Linked DNA regions of Homo sapiens: region 1 is linked to region 2. Evidence: fine-mapped expression QTL. A gene starts in region 2. The other region holds a variant in brackets. All regions are shown on one strand. Distances are from middle to middle. Region 1 overlaps KPNA1 (karyopherin subunit alpha 1). Region 2 holds the start of KPNA1 (karyopherin subunit alpha 1).

Evidence for each region. PIP is the estimated chance that this variant, and not a neighbour inherited with it, causes the effect.
Region 1: its variant is the best candidate, but not a certain one, in a credible set for the expression of KPNA1 in whole blood (INTERVAL, PIP 0.59).

What each region holds. Positions count from the first base shown.
Region 1 is chr3:122,423,208-122,426,124 of GRCh38, reverse strand. It overlaps KPNA1 (karyopherin subunit alpha 1), which reads left to right. Exons shown (of 14, transcript NM_002264.4): 14 at 1-2,917. The region is part of intron 1 of WDR5B-DT (WDR5B divergent transcript); the gene reads right to left. Among named protein-coding and RNA genes, the nearest start is that of WDR5B-DT, 8.5 kb to the right of the region's middle. The variant TC/C (reference allele first, on the strand shown) is at 1,634.
Region 2 is chr3:122,513,109-122,516,025 of GRCh38, reverse strand. KPNA1 (karyopherin subunit alpha 1) reads left to right here and starts at 1,087. Exons shown (of 14, transcript NM_002264.4): 1 at 1,087-1,269. LOC107984000 (a long non-coding RNA gene) reads right to left here and starts at 997. Exons shown (of 2, transcript XR_924403.3): 1 at 898-997. RefSeq lists a silencer at 1,120-1,809.

The DNA.
Region 1 (2,917 bases), 90 kb after region 2:
TAATAAAAAAAACTAAGGACGAAAAAACCCTCCAATTTTCCCAAATGCAATCAGTGTAACTAGGGGCTGTGTTTCTGCATTAAAATAAATGTTTCAGGCTTTGTGGTCCTGATCAAGGTCCTCATTAAAAAATTGGAGTTCACCCTAGGTGCTTTTCCCCTCTGTGACTGGCAGATAACACATACTTTTGAAAGTAACTTTGGGATTTTTTTCTTAGGTGCAGCTCGATTCTAATCTTTTCATGCTGCACACGATTCCTTTAATGTAGCATCCTTATCTGAAAGAAATAACCATCTTCTCAACATGACCTGCTTAACCCAAATAAGAACAGTGATCTTATAACCTCATTGTTTCCTAATCATTTTATTTCATCTCCTGCTAGTACTGTGCCGCTTCCCCCTCCCCCCACACAAAATAAAAACAGTATCTGCCTTCTGGCTCATTTAATGATGACTGCAATCTGTACCTGCAAATGGCGCTTCCAGTACTGTGTTCAGTGATCCACATTTGTGCTTGGACTGGAATGAAAAAATACGCTTAATTGCCAAGACAACTGCAAATGAGTTCAATACGACTTCTCGGTGCTAGTTGGCCATCTTGACTCAATGTTGGGATACACTACCAGAGAAGATTTTTTTGTTGATGTGCTGTTCAAAGTGAATTCTGAAGGAAAAGGTTGCTCACCTCTGTTTCAGAGCATACCCTTTTAAACCTTTTTAGACTTGTCCTCTTCTAGAATTCATTATAACCCCAAAGTGTAAAAACTATTTGGAAGTTGCCCCTGACAAGCTATTATACATCTCTGGTAAATCCTGCTGAATGTAAGGGATATTCAGAGCTTTTCATACCTCATCATGATGTTATTTAAGCAGCCAACTTATGTGACCTGATTTAAACTTTTAAAAAATCCACTTCATTCAAACTAGAAAGAGTCAAAGACAAAGGACATTTATCAGCCAAGAGTGTGACGCATTCTTCGCATCTAGTCTGTAGTAGTGTCTGTGCTCTGGGATGGATACCGTCTGATGTCTGTTTGTTATTGATGGCGCAGCCACTGCAAAACTAGTCAACTCCCATCTATAACTGTTACTTTTTCTAGTGCTGCTTTGTGCTGAGAGAACATTTTAGTTTACTGCACTTGACCTGTAAAAGACTGATTCTTTGTAATTTTAGGGATAAATTAGGTGGTTAATTTAAAGAAGAAATTTCAATGTTGCCTTTACATCACATTAAAATATAACTTCTTTCAGAAGGATAATAGAAGCACTGATTCATAGTAAAAATCTTGTTTTTAGCTTTGACTTTTTTGTGGCTGTTTTTTAAAATTGTAAATTACTAGTAACATGTCATTTCTATAGGATGTTTTAAATTATGTACCTTCCATTGGATAGTTAAAATAATTTCATTTTATAAGCCAATTTGAGTGGGAAAGATACAAAGCACACAGTTGTCTCCCCACATTAGGAAGAGTAGTGTGCATTCAGACATTCGGAATTTTTGCTAGTAGTTGGAGATGTTTCAGTGAGTGAATTAAAACAAAGTCTATTTAACTGACGTGATCTATTTTGTGTCTAAAACAGAGGAATTTATCTTGTCCTAGAAGTTCATGAACTATAAGATCTAAGTTTTTTTT[TC/C]TTTTTTAACAATAAAATGATTTTTTCTTAAAGTATCAAAGTTGGAATTGGCTAAAAGTGAAGTAGCATAACTCAGATATGTTGGAACTTGGTACTGAAGCAGGCTTTTTGGTAACAGAAATGACATTTTAAGGGGTAACTGTATATCCTGTTTTTAGTTCTTTGCCTCTCAGATTCTGTTAACTTAGTTTAAATTCACTGAATACCCTACCACTAAGGCGTTGCTCATTACAAAAGCATGTTAATTTCAATACAGGAAAACTCTTTTGTAGTTTTATATATGGATTGGGGAAAGTGACTTTGTTTTACTTTTCCTTTTTATTCCCCTCCATCCTCCAAACTTCCAATCTATATTATTTGTAATGAGAACTTTGGTGGGGGAAAAAAAGCATTAAGAGAATTTTGGATGTAAAGGCATCTGGTATCTGATGGACCAGCAGGTAGATGTGGTTGGATTGAGAAATTTTGGGTAAGGTAGATGATAGAAGAAAGAGATTTTAGGAGACACAGTTCTCTGTGGAACACTTTCTTTCATGTTCCTGTAACTAATTGATCAAGACCCTTTTAAACGCTTATCTTTGTCAGTTCCGCTTTTGAAAAAACTATTGCCCTAGGATTGTTTCTTCCATATGACAGATGAAGGTTATTGGCTCTGAGTCATTTTTGGCATTATCGTCACAGATAAAAAGATTGGCAATTAATCTCATAAAAAATCTGAATTATTCCAGATTGCTGCCGATTTTTGCCTAAGAAACAATATGTAAGTATATTTTATAAACCAAACTTTGTCAACCAATTCTATTGTACGTCTACCCACAGGCAACTTTGAATTTACTTCTCTAGTGCTAAATAAACATTTCAGCGATTTAATCCCCCAACTTGGGGGATGCATTATGAAAAGGTTTTCCTGGAGTCAAGGGGTTTTTCTTTCTCGCTAGTTTTGTGAAAATTTTTATATCAATAGGCAAATCATTATAACTTTTTAGGGGTTGATGGTTTTTAAGTATATTGGAAATTGTGGTGTCTAAGGATGATGTTCAGTGAAGAAAAGGGATCCACTTTTAGAAACCAGCATTGTTTGCTTTCAACTTTCATACTGTATGCTAACTCCTACGTTCCAAAATGTGCTCATTTGCAGACACAGGTATGCCTATATACATGGAAGTCTCAAATCTGAATTTTTATCCATCTCAATATGACCATTTCTCTCTGTTGTGAGCTGAACAGATTAAGTATATATCTGCCAGGTTGGGAAATATTTTGGTCTATCTTTTCCTGTCATC
Region 2 (2,917 bases):
TTGCATAACCTAGGATTCAGGTAGAGTGGTCCTCTCTCCTCTCCTCTTCCCTGGGACATTTATAAATGTATTAATCTACCTCATCTCTTTCACCTTGCTTCTTGGCATGTGTTTTAAATCTGTCTACTATTCCGTGATCCCTGCTAGGCTGGCTTCAGTTTTTCTTCTTTTGAAGCCACTACTCCATTTGCTCCCCCAAAGAATTCCATGAAATTTAACATTAGCAATCATTTGCTCCAAGTTTTCGTTTGAGAGCAGTTGAGAGTAAAACGAGTATGTGTTTCATGTAGTTTCATTATTATTATTATTATTATTGTTATTATTATTTTTGAGGCAGGGTCTCACTCCGGTTGCCCAGGCTGGAGTGTAGTGGCGCGATCTCGGCTCACTGCAGTCTCACCGTCAACCCCGGGCTCAGGTGATTCTCCCACCTCAGCCTCCCGAGTAGCTGGGACTTCAGGCGCCCGTCACCACCCCCTGCTAATTTTTGTGTTTTTAGTAGAGACGGGGTTTCGCCATGTTGCCCAGGCTAGTCTCAAAACTCCTAGCCTCAAGTGATCCACCCACCTCGGCCTCCCAAGGTGCTGGGATTACAGGTGTGAGCCACCGCGCCCGGCCCTTAATTATTTTTGATACTACGCATACGTTATCAAGCAAAGGGGATGGGAGATAACTAAAAAAGGAATGTCCAGAAGCTTCCTGCATTCATGCTGCATGTGAGCCCTTTAGACACGAGGCGCTGACCTACTAATTTTGTAATACTCCCTCAGCCTTCAATCATTCCATCATTCATTCCATCAACGCGTATTAGGTACTTAGAAGCTATACAGAGGTGAGCATCGATCCGCCCTGGAAGAGCTTAGCAAAGACAGGTTTGTACATATAACTTTCTCCAACCTTTGCCATGGTCTGCAAACCTCCTTCTTAGCGAGACCCCCTCCCCGACCCCCGACTCTTCACAGGCTGGGCGCTAACCATTAGGAATGTCCGGCGAGAGAGCGTTACAAGACTACGTCTCCCGGCAGCCTCTGCGACAAGCGCCGGAGGGGCGCGCGTAGGCGCTCGGGCCGGCCCCCGCACGCAGGCGCACTGCGAACGCCGGCTGAGCTGAGTCTCGCTGCTCGGTGCGAGGCGGCGGAGAGCGAGGCCTGGTGAGCACCGCCGAGGCGCGGGCCAGCTCTTCGAGGTTGTGCGCGGGAGTGGCACGGCGGGCGGGCGAGCGAGGGGCTAACTTCAGCGGTGGCACCGGGATCGGTTGCCTTGAGCCTGGTGAGTGCTGGGGCCTTGCGGCCCCGGCCCCTCCCCCTCCCGCCGGCAGATCCGGGCAGTCCCGGAGGGACTCAGGAGAGGCCCTGGGGCGAGGGCGGGTGCCGGCAGGGCCTAGAGCCGGGGTTCCTGGGCCGGACGCTCGCGCCGCGTCCGTGCGTCACGGGCCCGGCTGTCCTAACGGCCACAAGGCCGGCGGAGGAGAGGGTGGGGGTGGGGAGCCCTGGTGTGATCGCCATCGGGAACGCCGGTCGAGGCTAGGCGGGGCGGGGCGGCGTGGCGCGGCGGCGGGGCTGTAAGCGGCGCCGGGGACTGCGGGGCGCCGAGGCAGCGGGCGGAGAGGAGGCGAGCGCGGAGCCTGCGCCGCGGCCGGGCGGCGGGCGGGAGGCGGGGGTGGGCCGCGCAGAGCGCTGTGACAGAGGCAGGAAGGAGCAGGGGTGGCGTGTAAAAATTCTAACCCTGGCAAAAAGGGACCGTCTTGGGAATTCACAAGTTACAGACCGGGTCGGAGCCGGCGGCCCGGAGGGAGGTGGGGGAAGCGGGGGGTGGAGACGGCCGGCTGCAGTTTACCGATGTCATAACAACATGGGCCTGGAGCGGCTGATCGGGGGTGTGGTAATTATAGCAATGACAGAACTTGGTCTGCACGCCGCGTGTGCGATGCGAGGGAAGCAGCGAGGTATCGGATTAAGCTCAAAACGGGAGGAGGAAACAAGGATGACTGGAGTCAAGGAAGTCGTCATGAAGTAATGTTTTAGGATTGGGTCGTGTTCCACTTTTAAATGAAAGCGTTCAAAATATTTGATTTTTAAGGTTTCAACTCAGAACAAACGATTGCCGAGTTTTTGTTTGTATTTTAAAGAGATGGGGTCTCGCTATATTGCCCAGGCTGTACTCCAACTCCTGAGCTCAAACTGTCCTCTTGCCTCAGCTTCCCAAGTAGCTGGGACTAGTCTTGGGCAACCACACCCAGCTCTGCAGAGTATTTTTTTTTCTGAAACGTACTGTCAAGTAATATTAACTTGAATTTCACCCTTTTTTCTTAAATAAACGGTTGCTTAAAAATCTCTATTAGTAGATGAAGTGATTTCCCCCCTCCTGTTTTGTTTTTTTTTTTCTTAAGAGATGGAGTCTTGCTTTGTTTCCCGGGCTGATCTGGAACTCCTGGCCTCAAGGCATCCTCCCTACTAGCTGGAACTACAGGCGGATGCCACCAGCAAGGCTCATTCTCGACATTGTTTTTGTCTTAACTAGCTTTTGCATTTGTAATATTTTGAAAGCAGTACACAAGTTATTTTTCCCTCCTTTTTAAAGATCAAAGAGATGAAAATTTAATTTTTCAAAGGAAAGTAAGAATGAGTTCTGTTGTATTTTTACTGAAATATTCTTGGAAGACACTGTTTTATGGATAGATGAGACGTAAGAGAAAGTAAAGGAATTAACATTTATTGAGTTCTTTTTTCAGGTATTGTGTTAAATGCTTTACATATATTAAAAACATTTGAATCTGAAGTATCTGTTAATTTTTCTATTTTACAGATGAAAGCATTGACAATCAAATGTTAAGTAACTTACCTAAGGTCTTCCAGTTCTTGTTGAGAACAACCTTAGAACCCAAAGTTACTGCCATTTAAATTATTTCTCTCCTTTC